Linked DNA regions of Homo sapiens: regions 2 and 3 are each linked to region 1. Evidence: fine-mapped expression QTL. A gene starts in region 1. Each other region holds a variant in brackets. All regions are shown on one strand. Distances are from middle to middle. Region 1 holds the start of HDHD3 (haloacid dehalogenase like hydrolase domain containing 3). Region 2 holds the start of BSPRY (B-box and SPRY domain containing). Region 3 overlaps BSPRY (B-box and SPRY domain containing).

Region 1 (5,649 bases):
AGCCTTCAGAATGAAGAGCCACAGATACAGAGGAAACTGTCCATTTTTATGCTTAGGTTCAACGAAGTGTACATGGCCGTGTATGTAGGGAAAAGAGAGATCAGACTGTTATTGTGTCCATGTAGAAAAGGGAGACATAAGAAACTCCATTTTGACCTGTACCCTGAACAATTGCTTTGCCCTGAGATGCTGTTAATCTGTAACTTTGCCCCAACCTTGAGCTCACAGAAACATGTGTTGTATGGAATCAAGGTTTAAGGGATCTAGGGCTGTGCAGGATGTGCCTTGTTAACAAAATGTTTACAGGCAGTATGCTTGGTAAAAGTCATCGCCATTCTCCATTCTCGATAAACCAGGGGCACAATACACTGCGGAAAGCCGCAGGGACCTCTGCCCTGGAAAGCCTGGTATTGTCCAAGGTTTCTCCCCATGTGACAGCCTGAGATATGGCCTCGTGGGATGGGAAAGACCTGACCGTCCCCCAGCCCGACACCCGCGAGGGGTCTGTGCTGAGGAGGATTAGTAAAAGAGGAAGGCCTCTTGAAGTTGAGATAAGAGGAAGGCCTCTGTCTCCTGCCTGCCCCTGAAACTGAACGTCTCGGTATAAAACCCGATTATACATTTGTTCAATTCTGAGACAGGAGAAAAACCGCGCCGTGGCGGGAGGCGAGACATGTTGGCAGCAATGCTGCTTTGTTATTCTTTTCTCCACTGAGATGTTTGGGTGGAGAGAAGCATAAATCTGGCCTGTGTGCACATCCAGGCATAGTACCTTCCCTTGAACTTATTTGTGACTCAGATTCCTTTGCTCACATGTTTTCTTGCTGACCTTCTCCTCACTATCAGCCCGCTCTCCTATCGCATTCTTCTTGCTGAGATAGTGAAAATAGTAATCAATAAATACTGAGGGAACTCAGAGACCAGTGCCAGAGCAGGTCCTCCGTATGCTGAGCGCCGGTCTCCTGGGCCCACTGTTCTTTCTCCATACTTTGTCTCGGTGTCTTATTTCTTTTCTCAGTCTCTCGTCCCACCTGATGAGAAATACCCACAGGTGTGGAGGGGCAGGCCACCCCTTCACATGTAGAAACAGGATTGCACAAAACGCTAATAGACTGAATAGAGAAACCCACCAAGACCCATCTGTGTAGATTCTTCTTGGCCTCTCTGTGCAGTGTTCCTTCCTCCAGGGTATGCGGCAAGACCCTCTCAAAGGGGCCTGGGTGGTGGGGGCTGTCTTATGACCTGTCTTGCCTAAGGTCATAGTGCAAGGTGATGAGACTAAAGAGGAACAGAGCACAGGCACAGAAGTATCTCAAAGCTTCCCCTCCGGTACCTCCCCAGCCTCTTTGGCCCAAACCCCCTGGCTAGCAACATTCCTATAGTTCCTCAGTGTCTCTTTGGTTCGGAAAAAAAACTTTCTTGCCTGGAGGCCTTTGCATCAGGGGGTCCCTTAACCATCACTCAGATCCTTCCCCTCTGCATGGCCAACTCTCATATGTTTGTATTTTTTAGTTTTTTGAGACTAACATGCATTACATGCATACCTTATTTATTTATTATTTTTTTATTTTTTTATTTTTTTGAGATGGAGTTTTGCTCTTGTTACCCAGGCTGGAATACAGTAGCCTGATCTTGGCTCACTGCAACCTCCACCTCCCCGGTTCAAGCGATTCTCCTTCCTCAGCCTCCCAAGTAGCTGGGAATACAGGCATGAACCACCTCGCCTAATTTTGTATTTTTAGTAGAGACGGGGTTTCACCGTGTTGGCCAGGCTAGTCTTGAACTCCTGACCTCAGGTGATCCACCCACCTCAGCCTCCCAAAGTGCTGGCATTACAGGCGTGAGCCACCGCGCCCAGCCAACATACATTACTTTTGCAAACAAAGATAAAACTCTTTTTTTATTCTTCAAAAGAATAAAAAAGCTCCCTGGTGGTCTAGTGGTTAGGATTCCAGGCTCTTACCACAGGGATCTTTTTTTTTTTTTTTTTTTTTGGGGACACAGTCTCGCTCTTTGCCCAGGCAAATATTGTGCAGTGGCAGAATCTTGGCTCACTGTAAGCTCCGCCTCCCGGGTTCATGCCATTCTCCTGCCTCAGCCTCCCGAGTAGCTGGGACTACAGGCACCTGCCACCATGCCCGGCTAATTTTTTGTATTTTTAGCAGAGACAGGGTTTCACCGTGTTAGCCAGGATGGTACCACAGGGTTCTTAAAAACAAAAAGAGGCCAGGTGCGGTGGCTCATGCCTGTAATCCCAGCACTTTGGGAGGCTGAGGTGGGCGGATCACCTGAGGTCAGGAGTTCAAGACTAGCCAGGCCAACACGGCGAAACCCTGTCTCTACTAAAAATACAAAAATTAGTTGGGTGTGGTGGCACACACCTGTAATCCCAGCTACTGGGGAGTCTGAGGCAGGAGAATCGCAAGAAACTGGGAGGCGGGGGTTGCAGTGGGCTATCGCGCCACTGCACTCCAGCCTGAGCGACAGAGGGAGACTCCGTCTCAAAAAAAAAAAAAGAGAAAGAATAAAAAAGCAGGTTACTGCAGCGGACTCTACCCTCACCAAGTTATCTTGGATTTAACAAGTTTCCAACTGAAAGCAATTCCCTCCAATACCAACTGGGGACCCTGAGACCAGAGAGGGGCTGGGCCTTGCCCAGGTTCACACAACACTAAGCAAGCCAGGCTGGGTCCCAACTCCCCTCCTCCCACTCAACCTGGGTACTTCTCGGGGGTTTCCCGATCCAAAGGAGGCCAGGAGCCGGGGTTGGGGATGGGGAGCGGAGACAGCGGTGAGGAGCGGCGGTGTGGCGGGCAGGGGGTGCGCAGACAGGGCGGAGAAGGTGCTGGTAACGGGGGCTGCGGAGCGGAAGGGTGCGGGCTGGGGAACCTCAGAGGGTGCGGGGAGGGAATAAGGGGCGTAGATGGTGCAGGGTAACGGAGGCGCGCAGTGAAGGCGGGTGACAGGGGCGCAGAGAGGTGCACAGTGAGACGAAGGAGGGAGAGGGGACGGCGAGGGCGACGGGAGATGGGGCGGGAGAGGGCGAAGGTGAGGGGGATAAGGGCGGGGACGGGGCGGGGACAGAGGCGGGTCGGGATGGTAGGGAGGGGCGGCCCGCGCGATCCCCGCCCCACCGCCCGGCGCTTGCGCACCTCCGCCCGAGCTCGCGGGCCTTGCGGCTGCGTTTTCAATCTGCTTCCTTGTGAGTCAGGTGGGTCCTGGGCCCAGGAACCGGCCCGGAGCCGTGGACGCCCTACAGCTGAGAAGGGGACCCAAGGGGTCGGCCGCGGCCAAGGCCCCTAGGACCGCCGCCCCAGCTCACGCTGCCGACGGCAGCTATAGACATTCTGCGTCAGGTCCGGGCTCCTGGACTTCGCCTTTCCCGAGCCCTGGAGGTGGGGAGAAAAGGTGAGCAGTTCGTGCCTGCAGCGCAGAGCCCCAAACCCGCGGTTTTAGAAATCGAAAAAGCCCTGCCGGGCGCGGTGGCTCACGCCTTTACCGTAATCCCAGCACTTTGGGAGGCCGGGGGGCGGGGTGGGGCGGGGGAGGATCACGAGTTCGGGAGTTCGAGACCAGCCTGGCTAACATAGTTGAAACCCCGTCTCCACTAAAAATACAAAAATTAGCCAGGTGTGGTGGCGCGCGCCTGTAGTCCCAGCTACTCTGGAGGCTAAGGAAGGAGAATCGCTTGAATCCGGGAGGCGGAAGTTGCAGTGAGCCGAGATCGCACCACTGTACACCTGGGTGACAGAGTGAGACTCTGTCTCAAAAAAAAAAAAAAAGAAAAAAAGCCGGCCGGGTATAGTGGCTCACGCCTGTAATCCTAACACTTTGGGAGGCTGAGGTCGGGAGTTCGAGACCAGCCTGGCCAACATGGAGAAACCCCGTCTCTACTAAAAATACAAAAAAAAAAGGAGCCGGGGATGGTGGCGCATGCCTGTAATCCCAGCTACTTGGGAGGCTGAGGCAGGAGAATCGCTTGAACCTGGGAGGCGGAGGTTGCAGTGAGCCGAGATCGCGCCATTGCACTTCAGCCTGGGCAACAAGAACGAAACTCCGCCTCAAAAAAAAAAAAAAAAAAAAAAAAAAGCCGTGGGTCAGGAGCCAGAGCCCTCTGCTCTAGTCTTAGCTGTGCCAATGTGACTCCCTGTGTGATTTGGGGGTAAATTACTGCCCCTCACTGGGTCTCTGTCTACCCACCTGCAAAATGAGAGGATCTTTGGATGAGTCTCCTTAATTCATTTCCTGGACAAACTTCCTCCAAGGCTCCCCCAGATTTACCAGTGACGCCCTTCCCTAAGTATCAACTTAGCCGTACTTTGAACTCTGGCCCCTCAGGTTTCAAGGGGACGGCCTTGTCTGGGATCAGCTCTGTCTGGGGAAAGAAGCTGCACCAGCCTCTGGATAGCAGGCTGAGTCACTTGTTTCTTGTGCCTTGAGTCAGTTCTCTCATCAGCTCTCCTCCTAGGCCAGTGTTATTACCTCCAGTAAAGATGGAAAAGTTGGGGTTCAGAGAGGGCTAGAGACAGACAGCCTGCTGTGTCCTGTCTTTTCTCCTGTGCTGTACAGGTTCACCAATTTTTAAAATCCAAATATATCTCATGGTACAGTGGAAGAACTGGCCAGAGAGTCTGGAAGTTTGGGTTCTGGTCCTGGCTGTGCCACTGACTCACTGTGACCTTGGGTAAGTACCTGCCCCTTTCTGGCTCAGTCTACTCTGCCCAGCAGCCAAGATATCGTTCATATGCTCTGCAAGGCCCCTTCTGTCTTTGACATCCCTAATAATGATAATAGCAATCATAATAATTGTGTCCTGTGTGCCAGACAGCTGGCCTCTGTCTACTTGCCCTGCCTCAGGGCCTTTGCACTTGCTATTTCCACTGACGGGAGCACTCACCTACCTCTGCTTCTTGCACATTCATTCTTCTGATCTCCATTGAAACTTGACTTGCAGGGCTGGGAGTGATGGCTCATGCCTGTAATCCCAGTACTTTGGGTGGCCAAGGCTGGGGGATCACTTGAGTCCAGGGGTTGGAGAGCAGCCTGGGCAACATAGTGAGACCCACCCCGCCCCACCACCCCACATCTCTACAAAAAGTTCAAAAATTAGCCGGGCATGGTGGCACGTGCCTGTAGCCCCAGCTACTAGGGAGGCTAAAGCAGGAGGATTGACTGAGCCTGGGAGATCGAGGCTGCAATGAGCCATGCACTCCAGCCTGGGAGACAGAGAGAGACCCTGTCTCACAAAAAAATTAAAAAAAATAAATAAAAAGAAACTTCACTTGCTTATGACATTCCCTAACTACACAGACTAGATGCGGTCCCTGGATTTAGATCCTTACGGTATCTATTGACTTCATTATATTTAAGTGTTTGTATAGTTCTTTGCCTAATATCCGTATCCCTGTTCTTCAGTGCCTGTAAATGCCCTAAGGGCTGGAAATCTATCCCATATGCTAGCAGCTAGCTCAAAAAGGTGCTCAGAAATTTGTTGTGGATTCAGAGTGACTTTCCTAGGGTCACACCATTGGCAGCACCAGAATTTGAACCCAGTCTGTCTGATGTCAGGGCCTGAGCTTCCACCTTACCTGCTATTTTTCATTCTAGGATCTTGTGCTGTGAAGACATTTCCCAAGTGCTTCATGTTAG
Region 2 (5,649 bases), 30 kb after region 1:
CAGGGGTTAAGGGATACGGTCGCGCTGGATTTTATCAGTGTCAGTTTCCACAGGGGCGGGAGCTGGGGCACACCCTGCGCTGAGAACTGGAGCAGCTGAGCCTTTCATGCCAGCCCCAGCTTCCTCAACAGAGCAATGGAAGGGGCCTGGGGAGCCTGGATCCCCTTATCGCTAAGCATTTTACCCACTATCTTATTTATTTCTCACAACTCTAATAAATACGCGCTATTATTATTGTTGTTGTCCCCAAACTACAGATGAAGACACTGAGGCTCAGAGTTACGTGACTCACAGGGAGTAGATTCGAACTCAGGCCAGCCTGACTTCAGAGGCCACACCCTTAACCGCCTAGTCCTACAGCCAAAGCCACCGAGGAGCCTAGGCTCCGGGGCCGGGTGTCGAGTCCGCCCAGCCCCAGGCTCCCCAGTCCCTGCCGGGTCCCGCCAGGCGCGCCCGGGGTCTCCGGAGCCCTCGCCTTCCGGCGCCCACACCCGCTCACCCGCAGCTCCTCGGCGCGCTCCTCCGCCCGGCGGATGCGGTGCCCCCGGCAGCGACCGCCCAACCCCGCGCAGGCGGCGCACACGGGCCGTCGCTCGGAGCCGCAGAACCAGCTCAGAGCCTGGCCGTGTTCGGGGCAGAGTGGCCCCGGCCCGGGCCCGGACCCGGACCCCGGCCCCGGCTCCGCGCCCTCGGCGGACATGGCCGTGCGCCCGCCCCGTGCGCTCCACCTGTCGCAGGTGGCGGCGGGCGGGGCCTGGCTGACCCCGCCCCCGGCCCTCCCGGTGCGCCAGCGCGCCCCGCAGCTGCGCCTCCTCCCACCCAACCCGCGCTCCCATCCCGCCCGGGGCAGCAGGTCTCTTTAAATTCCTTGTTGAATGAAATCGCGATTGTATGCGTATTTGTTCTACAACAAACATAAAACTCCAAATATTACTGTGACCGTAGGAAACTTTATTGAGCACTTATTAAGTGCCAGGCTTTCGCTGAGAGCTTTGCAAGCGTTCTGTTATGTAATCCCGACCACTGCCCTTTTTGAGAGGCAGCTTTAGATGCCTAGCTTCAAGCAAGGCTCTGCTGAGAAACTGCCTGGTTCAAATCCCGTTTGGCTGCTCACTGGGTGGGAACTCCAGCTGTAAAATGGGGTGAGAGTACCTGCCTCCCAGACGTCTGAGGAGTAAATACGCTAAATACGTAAAACAATATCTGGAACATAGCAGCTGCAATCGCTAAGTGTCTACTAACAGTGCGAGGAAAGTACTATTAGGATCCCATTTTTATGGAAGTTAAGTGGCTTGCCAAGGGTCACAGTTACTAATTGGTAGCTATGAGATTGGAACCTAGGCAGTGTGACTTAAGGTTACTATAATTAATAATTTTTTAAATTGAACATTGAGGCCCAGTGAGAAATATCTGTATTAGGCTGATTTTCCCAAAGTATTTACATCCAAACTTTTTGAATTTGAATATTTGAGTTTTCTTTTTAAACTAGCATTGAAAAAAAGTAATGCCTTTTTATTTCGAAGAAAACAAAATATGCAAATAAGCATGTGGAAGAAAAATCCACCCACTCCCACCCCAGAAAGAAAAACTGCTAACATGTTCCTGAGCTGTTTAGGGCTTTTCCCACCCTCAGGATCTTATATATTAGTCTGAGCCCAGATTGAGCCCTCTGCTGGGGATCCAGTCTAGTCTGTCTGGGCATACAAGGAGAACGCTGCTCTCCAGCTCTAAATTCTTCTTCTTCTTTTTTTTTTTTATTTTTTTTTATTTTTTTGAGATAGGGTCTCACTGTGTCACCCTGGCTGGAGTGCAGTGGTGTAATCATAGCTCACTGCAGCCTCGACCTCCCCAGCTCAAGTGATCCTCCCACCTCAGCCTCCTGAGTAGCTGGGACTACAGGCACATGCCACCGTGCCCAGCTAAGTTTTGTATTTTTCGTAGAGACAGGGTTTTGCCATGTTGCCCAGGCTGATCTCAAACTCCTGGGCTCAAGCCATCTCCCCCCTTCAGCCTCCCAAAGTGCTGGGATTACAGGTGTGAGCCACCGCGCCCGGCCACCAACCCCAAATTCTTTCTTAGGAGTCTTGGCAGAAAGCTGGGCACTCTCTCAAAAGGGGAAGGGCCCAGGCCTTCAGGTGTCAGAGAGTACTCTGAGTGCATCAGAACTGAACACAGGCGGGAGCTAAACCGAAAGAGAAACATTACATCCCATAGCTCACAGGGGCTCTAGCACCTCTACTCTGAAGCTTCTCTAAGCAATGGCCACACAAAGGAGATAGAACCCTTTCCTTCTCAGCCACTACTGCTTTAGCACCTGAGGGGTAAGGGCAGCTAACAGCCCCAGAGCTACCCAGAGCGGTACACAGTGGTGTCATCATCCAATGGGGACACATTGTCACCCCAGATAGACAATATTACACCATATGATTAGAGAGAACACTGAGTGAAATATAGTCATTGGTTTCATCCCAGCTATGCAGCTTACAGCTATGGGATCTTGGTCAGGTTACTCACAGCTTCTGTGTCTGTTTTCTTATCTCTACAACAGAGGTGATAATAATACTATCATCTACCTTAGAGGGCTACTTCAAGAATGAAATGAGATCTTGTCTACAAAGTATTTACTTTGGGTGTCTGATATACAGTAGGGGATAATAAAAGGTTTTATTATATGTGTGAGGATCTGTAAATACAGTTGTAGCAGGTTTCAGAATGTAAATTGTGTGAGGTTCTTTGGCGACAGGGGTGCTGCTTTCCTGGCATCTAAAGAAGTTTCCAGTGCATCCCAGTGGGAGGGTGATGGCCTCATAACAGCATCTACACTCCTCTGGGGGTGGGGAGGGAAATAGGCCATGGTAATTAGAGATTGTGGTTAGAATTTTTTCCTTCTAAGGACTGGGGATGGGGAATTATTAAACCCTATGGTGAAAACAAAGAAAATAGGAGGTGCTTTTTGTGTGAAGGCTAAAAAGAAAAGAGGTTGTGTGGCCAGGAGCAGTGGCTCATGCCTGTAATCCCAGCACTTTGGAAGGCTGAGGCAGGCGGATCACTTGAGGAGTTCGAGACCAGTCTGGCCATCATGGTGAAACCCCGTCTCTACTAAAAGCACAAAAATTAGCCGGGCATGGTGGTGCACACCTGTAATCCTAGCTGCTGGGGAGGCTGAGGCATGAGAATCGCTTGAACCCAGGAGGTGGAGGTTGCAGTGAGCTGAGATC[G/A]CGCCACTGCACTCCAGCCTGGACAACAGAGCAACACTCTGTTTCAAAAAAAAAAAAAAAGAAAGAAAGAAAGAAAAGAAAAGAAAAGAAAGAAAAGAGGTTGTGGAGGGCAGGGGGAGGAACAAGGGTTAAAATCCTTAGGGAAAGGTGGGGGGGGGGGAGGGGGGCCTTCACTGGGTGTGGCCCTAGAGCAGTCATTGGCCCTACCAGGTCCAGGATCTGGAAAACAGCCCCTAAATCACCAGAATTACTTTCAGGTAGTGGCATCAGCAAATGCAAAGGGCTAAGGTAGGAGTAGATTTACTTTTATCAAGTCGGGTTCCTCTGTTTCACCACTTATGAGCCAAGTTGGACTGGAACTGGAGAATCGCCCTTTCCCTATCTGTTCATCAAGCCCTGCAGGACACATCTGGGATACTCATAAACTCCCCGGTTATAGCTCTTAAGCTTTATCAGGCTTCGGAATCGTTGGAGGACAGGGGATGGTCAGGAGGGGAAAGAGGAGGAGTTGTAAAACACGCAGACTTTCCGGTAAGATTTTCATCCATTAAGTCTGGGATGAAGCCAAGAAGCTGCATCTGTGGCAGTCACTCCTTGACTAGGATGCAAAGGAGCCCCTTGACTGTTTCTAGAAACACTGCCCTAAGGCAGTGGCAACCCTTTATTAGGTGGCATATCAAGAAATTCAAGGGGTGGAGATCAGCATCTTTTATAAAAAGAAAGAAAAGGCTGGGCACAATGGCTCACGCCTGTAATCTCAGCATTTTGGGAGGCTGAGGAAGGTGGATCACCTGAGGTCAGGAGTTCGAGACCAGCTTGGCCAACATGGTGAAACTCCGTCTCTACTAAAGATACAAAAACTAACCAGGCGTGATGGCACATGCCTGTAGTCCCAGCTACTTGGGAGGCTGAGGCAGAAGAATCACTTGAACCCGGGAGGCAGAAGTTGCAGTGAGCAGAGACTATACCACTGCACTCCAGCCTGGGTGGTGGGTGACAGAGTGAGGCTCTGTCTCCAAAAGAGAAAAAAAGAAAAGAATAAAGAACAGAAAACATGCTCTTAGTAAGGTTTTTGTTGTTTCAATTACATATATATAGGTAAACAAAATGGATGGAAGGTCGTTGTTTTGGACTGGGCTTCCACACTAGGCCCCACCATACCAAACCAAAACAAAATGGAGTTACTCATGCTAAACTGCCACTTCACCAAACCAAAACTAAGTAGTTTATCTGAACTTCCAAGAAATTGGGAGAGAAAAAGAGAAAGAGAGAGCATATTAAAATCCCCAAACAGTACAGAATTAGCTGGCATGATAAGGAAGTCCTCTCTGTTTTAACCCTAAAAGGAAAGTAACTTTGAAATGAGTAATCCTCTTTTTTTTTCCAGCTCTTTTCTACCTATAAAGCCCATGTCCTCTGTTCAGCTCATTGGAACATTCTGTTTTATAGAATTAGGTGTTGCCTGATTCTAGAAGTGCTAATAAAAGCCAATAAGATCACTCAACTACATTTGTTGTAATTTTGTCTTTGGCCTATATATACGTACATATGCACCGTGGAGAATGAATGTACTTCTTTATGAGGTCAAAAAAATTTGAAAGCTGCTTAGAGCTCTTAGGGGACCTCTGGAGGCTTCATGGGCATAGGCAGGGCTGTACTTGAACTTCAGGCACTCTGAGCTAGGGAGAGAAGAATGGACACCATTGTTACATTTTAGTCATTCAACAGATTTATTGAGCCCCTGCCAATGTGCCAGGCCTTAGACACTGGGGATACAACAGTCAAGAAGAACAAAGTCTACTTTCATGCACAAATAAAATGCAACAAATGGATATGTAATATAATGTCAGTAATGATAAGGGCTATGAAAAAGATTCAAGTATTACAAGAAAAAGAGCATGATGGAGGTGCTGGTGTAGAAAGGATGGTGTAGAAGTCCTCTCAGGTAAGTGGCACTGGAAGAAGCAAGGCATGAAAACATCTGGGGAGGAGATTTCCAGACAGAGGACTAGCAAGTGCAAGATGTCTTTCTGTACCATGAACTCTGCTCCCCAATCTTCAAAGAACCTCACACGATTTACAATGTGTGAAAAACTGCTACAAATATACTTACAGGTCCTCACACATAGGTTAAAGCATTCATTAGCTCCCACTATATGATACAAGCTGGAACATATTTATTTTACAAAATTGGGATTATGTGTACAACCTGCTCTCTAACCTGCCCTTTCACTTGCTCATTTATAACATTTGGCTTGGATCTTTTTTAAAAAACTTTAAAAAAAAAATAACTTCTGGGCCAGGTGTGGTGGCTCACACCTGTAATCCCAGCACTTTGGGAGGTCGAGGTGGGTGGATCGCAAGGTCAGGAGATCGAGACCACCCTGGCTAACACAGTGAAACTCTGTCTCTACTAAAAATACAAAAAAAA
Region 3 (5,649 bases), 22 kb after region 1:
TACAAAAGAGTAGACCAAAAATACTAGAAGCTGGTTCTAAAGACTAACAGTCAAACCTGTGGCAACTTTGATCAAAACTAAGAACAACTTTATCTTAAGTAAACCCTTAAGAAAAAAGAGTTCTGTTTTCCAATCCATTGAATAAGGCTCACATAACCTTGATACCAAATCTGATGAGGACTGTACAAGAAATGAAATTCATAGACTAATCTCACTCCTGAGCATACAAGCAAAAATCCTAAAACAAAAATAAAAAATGCTTTACTGAGATTAGCAATCCAAATTCAGAAATTTTGTATTAATAATACAAGGGGATAGGAAAGGGTACATGTGGCTATAAAAGGGTAGCACAAGGAGTCCTAGTGATGGAACTGTTCTGTATTTTAATTGTGGTAGTAATCACATGAATCTATGCCTGTGATAAGATAGTTAAATAAATATACACCATTTGAGAGCAGTGATCTCTCCCACCTCCTTGGAACCCATGCTGGGACACTCTGCTCTCTTAGTTTACTTCCGTTTCATTAGCTGATTTCTTGGTCCCCGTTCGCTGGTTCCTTCTGTCTTCTCAATAGGAGGTGAAGTGCCCTAGGGCTCAGTCTTTGGACCGCTGCTCTTTCGTGTCTACACTCATTCACTTAGTGATGTCATCCTCTCCCACGGCTTTCAATACTATTTATACACTGATAAATCCCAAATTTATATCTCCAACCCAGCCCTCTCCCAACTCATATATGCAGCTACCTACTCAGCACCTTCACTTGGATGTCAAATAGGTATCTCAAACATAACATGCCCACAACAACTTAGCATGCCTGCTCTCCCCCACTCCCCTCCCTGCCTCCGCCAACCATCACTCCACATGCAGTCCTTCCCCCACCCAGTTCATGGCTGCTCCATCCTGCCAGTTGCTCAAATAAAAAAACTTCAGCATTATCCTGACACCTCCCCTCTTTCTTTCATAGCCTACATCTAGTCCATCAGCAAATCCTGTTGCCTCTTCAAAATATATGCAGAATCTAGCCACTTCTCACTAGCTTTGCCACCATTGCTTGGGTCCAGACCACACTTGTTTCCCACCTGGATTATTACAATGGCTTCCTAACTGGTCTCCCTGCTTTAACCTTTGCCGCCTATAATCACTTCTAAACATAGCAGCCAAAGTGTTTCTTTCTTTTTTTTTTGAGACAGAGTCTCGCACTGTTGCCCAGGCTGCAGTGCAGTGCGCAGTCTCAGCTCACTGCAACCTCCGCCTCCCGGGTTCAAGTGATTCTCCTGCCTCAGCCTCCCAAGTAGCTGAGAATACAGGCGCCCGCCACCATGCCCTGCTAATTTTTTTGTATTTTTAGTAGAGACGGGGTTTCACCGCGTTAGCCAGGATGGTCTGGAACTCCTGACCTCGTGATCCACCCGCCTCAGCCTCCTAAAGTGCTGGGATTACAGGCATGAGCCACTGCGCCCAGCCTCAACCTTCTTAATGAAGTCATTCCTGGTCACAGCACATGTAATTGCAACCCGTCCTATTCCCCTTTCTGTTTTATATTTCCCCATAGCACATATCACCTTCGGACATAACATAGATTTTGTTACTGTCCCTCTTCTGTGACAAGAATGTAGGCTTCATGAAAATAGGAATTTCTGTTTTGTTCACTGGAGAATGCCTAACCCATTGAACAACAGTATCTGGCACATGGTAGGTGCTCAATAAAGATTTGTTAAATAAATAACTGGTGAAATATTGGTAGCTTTCCTCTTAAAGTCAGGATTTGTCGGGCCAGGCACAGTGGCTCACGCCTGTAATCCCAGCACTTTGGGAGGCCGAGGTGGGCAGATCACCTAAGGTCAGGAGTTCAAGAACAGCCTGGCCAACATGGTGAAACTCCATCTCTACTAAAAATACAAAAAATTAGCTGGGTGTCGTGGTGGGCGCTTGTAATCCCAGCTACACGGGAGGCTGAAGCAGGAGAATCGCTCGAACCCAGGAGACGGAGGTTTCAGTGAGCCGAGATCGCGCCATTGCACTCCAGTCTGAGCAACAAGAGTGAAACTCTGTCTCAAAAAAAAAAAAAAGCCAGGATTTGCCACACTAGCTTCTATTTAACACAGTACTAAGGTCATAACCAGTGCAGTAAGACAAGAAAATAAAAAGGATAAAGAAGAAGAGGGGAAGAGGGCAGGGGAGGGAGATGGAGACCATCATGCAAAAGCAAAGCATAGATGGGCACCAAGTAGCTGCCTGGACTCCTAGCAGCTTTCTGGTTCCTGGTCTAGCCCCTTTTAGGT[C/T]CTAAGAGGACCCCTAGTGTCCTGTCAGGAAATGCCCCATTTTGCTTATACTTGTTCAACTGGGTTCTGTTCCATGCAATTAAAAGAACTCTGACTAATGTGGTACCAAGTCTGTTCCGTGTACTATAGGGAAAGGAGGGAGGGGATATGCAGAAAGAAATTCATAGGCTCTGCCCCTGATAGGCATACTTGAAAGTGATGACACAGCAGTGGTAATGAGTCCACTGAATAAAAAAATCTGCAGTGGAGGCCAGGCATGGCGGCTCACACCTGTAATCCTAGTACTTTGGAAGGCCAAGGAGGGAGGTTGGCTTAAGCCCAGGAGTTCGAGACCAGCCTGGTCAATATGGTAAAACCCCGTCTCTACTAAAAATTTACAAAGTTAGCCACTCATGGTGGCAGGCATCTGTAATCCCAGCACTTTGGGAGGCTGAGGCAGGAGAATTGCTTGAACCAGGGGTTACTGTGGGCCAAGATCACACCACTGCACTCCAGCCTGGGCAACAGAGTGAGGCCCCATCTCAAAAAGAAAAAAAATTAAAAAAAAGAATCAGCAGTGGGATGCAGCAGAAGGAGCACTAGCCTAGGAGACAGAAGATCCAGGTCACAGAACCGACTGCCAGGAGGCTATGGGGTCCTTGGACAGGTCAGTTAACCTCTTTAACCTCTATAAGGACCCATTTTCCTATTTGTAAATGGGGATGTTACTGCTATCTACTTCATAAGATTGTCACAGAGAATATTCAATGTAAAAGTCCTAGGTTATTTTATAATTCTGCAGCTGGGCAGAAAATGACCAGATGGTAGAAGAATACGACCCTTCTTGATCCCCTATGCCAAGATACCCAAGAAAGTCATTTGCTAGCAGAGTCTTTGCACCAAGTATGGTACAGGAACAAGCCCACCCTGCCCAGATGGTAAAATTGAGTCTCTGAGGGATGAGAAGCTTTGCTAGTAGCACAATGAGTCTGTGAGGTTGGTAAGGGACCCTAGACTTGCCCAAGTCCCTAAGTCTAAGGCCTTATCCTGGGAGGGGGCTGAGTAGAGAGGAAAGAAGAGGAATTACCACTGCTCTTTGATTCTTCCCCGGCAGGACGTCCGCCACATACTTGGTGATGGCAGCACTCTGTAACTGCAGCCTCTCACACTGGTCCACAATCTTGTTCTGCAACACAAACAACGCTTGTGGCATCTTGGTCCATGTACCTGAGCCATTCACTCCATCCCAGTGATTTTCTCCTGTTACCACATGTCAGCCACCCACTCCCATGGTCATAGCCCAGATCTCATCATTATCAAAAACTGTACCACCTCCTAAATCTCCATTTCAAGGATCCACACTCTCCCCACCATGCCCTATCCTTCTCACTCCCTAATTCTAGGATACCTATTCCAGCAACAGCTCAGTTGAGGCCACCAACACACTAGTGGGACTACCTTTCACTGTCCATCATCCCCTTCTGTGACCTCACCTCCGTCTTCATCCCAGAACCCCAGCCTATCATTATAATAACTTTAAAACAAATTTTTGCTCTATGAATATTCTCAGGCTATATTATTTAGAAACATTTAAGATTAGAATCATTATATGTTGCTGGTGAACTGCACATTCTCTAAGTGACTTTATCTTTAGTACTATGTTTGCCTTAAAGTCCATTTTGTCTTGTGTTTATTTTTATTTTTTTTTATTTATTTATTTTTTGAGGCAGAGTCTCACTCGGTTGCCCAGGCTGGAGTGCAGTGGTGCGATCTCGGCTCACTGCAACTTCCACCTCCCAGGTTCAAGCGATTCTCCTGCTTCAGCCTCCCAAGTAGCTGGGATTACAGGTGTGTGTCACCACACCCAGCTAATTTTTGTATTTTTAGTAGAGACAGGGTTTCACCATGTTGGCCAGGCTGGTTTCGAACTCCAGACCTCAGGTGATCTGCCCGCCCTGACCTCTCAAAGTGCTGGGATTACAGGTGTGAGCCACCGCACCCAGGCGTTTGTTTCTTTTTAAATTTATTTATGTATTTATTTTGAGATAGAGTCTTGCTTGTCGTCCAGGCTGAGTGCAGTGGCATGATCAAGACTCACTGCAGCCTTGACCTTCCAGGCTCAAGTGATCCTCCCATGTCCTTCCTGAGTAGCTAGAACTACAGGCACGTGCCACCACACCTGGCTACTTTTTGCATTTTTTGTAGAGATGGACTTTTGCCATGTTGCATAGGTTGGTCTCCAACTCCTGGGCTCAAGCAATCCTCCCGCCTCAGCCCCCCAAAGTGCTGGGATGTTACAGGTGTGAGCCACCACGCTCAGCCCGTTATAACCACTTTCTGGCGCACACACTCTTGGTCCTCCGTCATACTCAGCTGCCTGACTGTCCATACCTTCTGTTCTGTCCAGAACTGCTCTCTGCCAAGTTATCCTCATTCATTAAGCAGCACCATCAATCATTCACCTGTTACCCAGACCAAAAACCCAGGAGTTTGTCTCCAACCCCACATCAATTCCATTAGTGAGTCCTATCAACCCCATCTCCAAAGTCTCTCTCTCTCCTCTGGTCACCTCTACTCCAGTTATTCTATCCAGGTTGCCATGATCTCTCACAGGAACCACTGTTAGAACCTCTTAACTGGGTACCCTGCACCCCCAACCCCCCAGCTAGCCAGAGCCACCTTTTGTAAGGAAATCAGACCAGGTCATGCCCCTACTCAAAACCCTCCAATGGCTTTCAGTACACTCACAATGACATCAGGCTTCTTAGCTTAGCCAACCTAGCCCCACCTGATGTGACTCAGCTTATTTCTCCAACATCACTTTCTACCTCTATCCATGCTGGCCTTCTTTCTGTTCCTTAAATGTACCAAACTTGTCCTGACTTCAGTGCCTTTGCACCTGCAGTTCCGTTTCCACCAGTCTGTGTGTGTGTGTGTGTGTGTGTCTCACTCCCCAACTGCATTCAGATGTCATCTCTTCAGAGAGGTCTTCCCTGACCATCTCCCTCCTCACCCAATCTCTTACTTTGCTTTATTTTTCTCCCTTGCACTTATAACTCTCTGACTATATATTATGTGTTTGTTTACCTTTTTGGGTATCTGTCTCCCCCACCACTGGAACAGAAGCACCATAAGTCTGACTTCTCTATGTCCTAGTACCTCAAAGAGAGTTTCTGAACATAGAAGGCCCTGAATAAATATTTGTTGAATGAACGAACACCCACTGCCTTGACCACAAGAGGTTCAGCAGTTCATGGCTCTCAAAGCTATGAGCATCATCCATGAGCTCAGGGGAGTTTTAGAAATGGGAAAGCTGGCCGGGCACGGTGGCTCACACCTGTAATCCCAACACTTTGGGAGGCTGAGGTGGGCGGATCACCTGAGATC

Evidence for each region. PIP is the estimated chance that this variant, and not a neighbour inherited with it, causes the effect. A credible set is the group of variants that fine-mapping cannot tell apart.
Region 2: its variant is the best candidate, but not a certain one, in a credible set for the expression of HDHD3 in minor salivary gland (GTEx, PIP 0.54).
Region 3: its variant is the best candidate, but not a certain one, in a credible set for the expression of HDHD3 in caudate (GTEx, PIP 0.85).

Annotation. Positions count from the first base shown.
Region 1 is chr9:113,374,488-113,380,136 of GRCh38, reverse strand. HDHD3 (haloacid dehalogenase like hydrolase domain containing 3) reads left to right here and starts at 3,151. Exons shown (of 3, transcript NM_001304509.2): 1 at 3,151-3,408; 2 at 4,570-4,684; 3 at 5,608-5,649. RefSeq lists a silencer at 2,780-3,299.
Region 2 is chr9:113,344,631-113,350,279 of GRCh38, reverse strand. It overlaps BSPRY (B-box and SPRY domain containing), which reads right to left and starts at 739. Exons shown (of 6, transcript NM_017688.3): 1 at 500-739. The coding sequence starts at 700. RefSeq lists silencers at 392-671, 702-771. The variant G/A (reference allele first, on the strand shown) is at 3,219.
Region 3 is chr9:113,352,039-113,357,687 of GRCh38, reverse strand. BSPRY (B-box and SPRY domain containing) reads right to left here. Exons shown (of 6, transcript NM_017688.3): 2 at 3,350-3,448. Among named protein-coding and RNA genes, the nearest start is that of BSPRY, 5.3 kb to the right of the region's middle. RefSeq lists a silencer at 5,123-5,172. The variant C/T (reference allele first, on the strand shown) is at 2,284.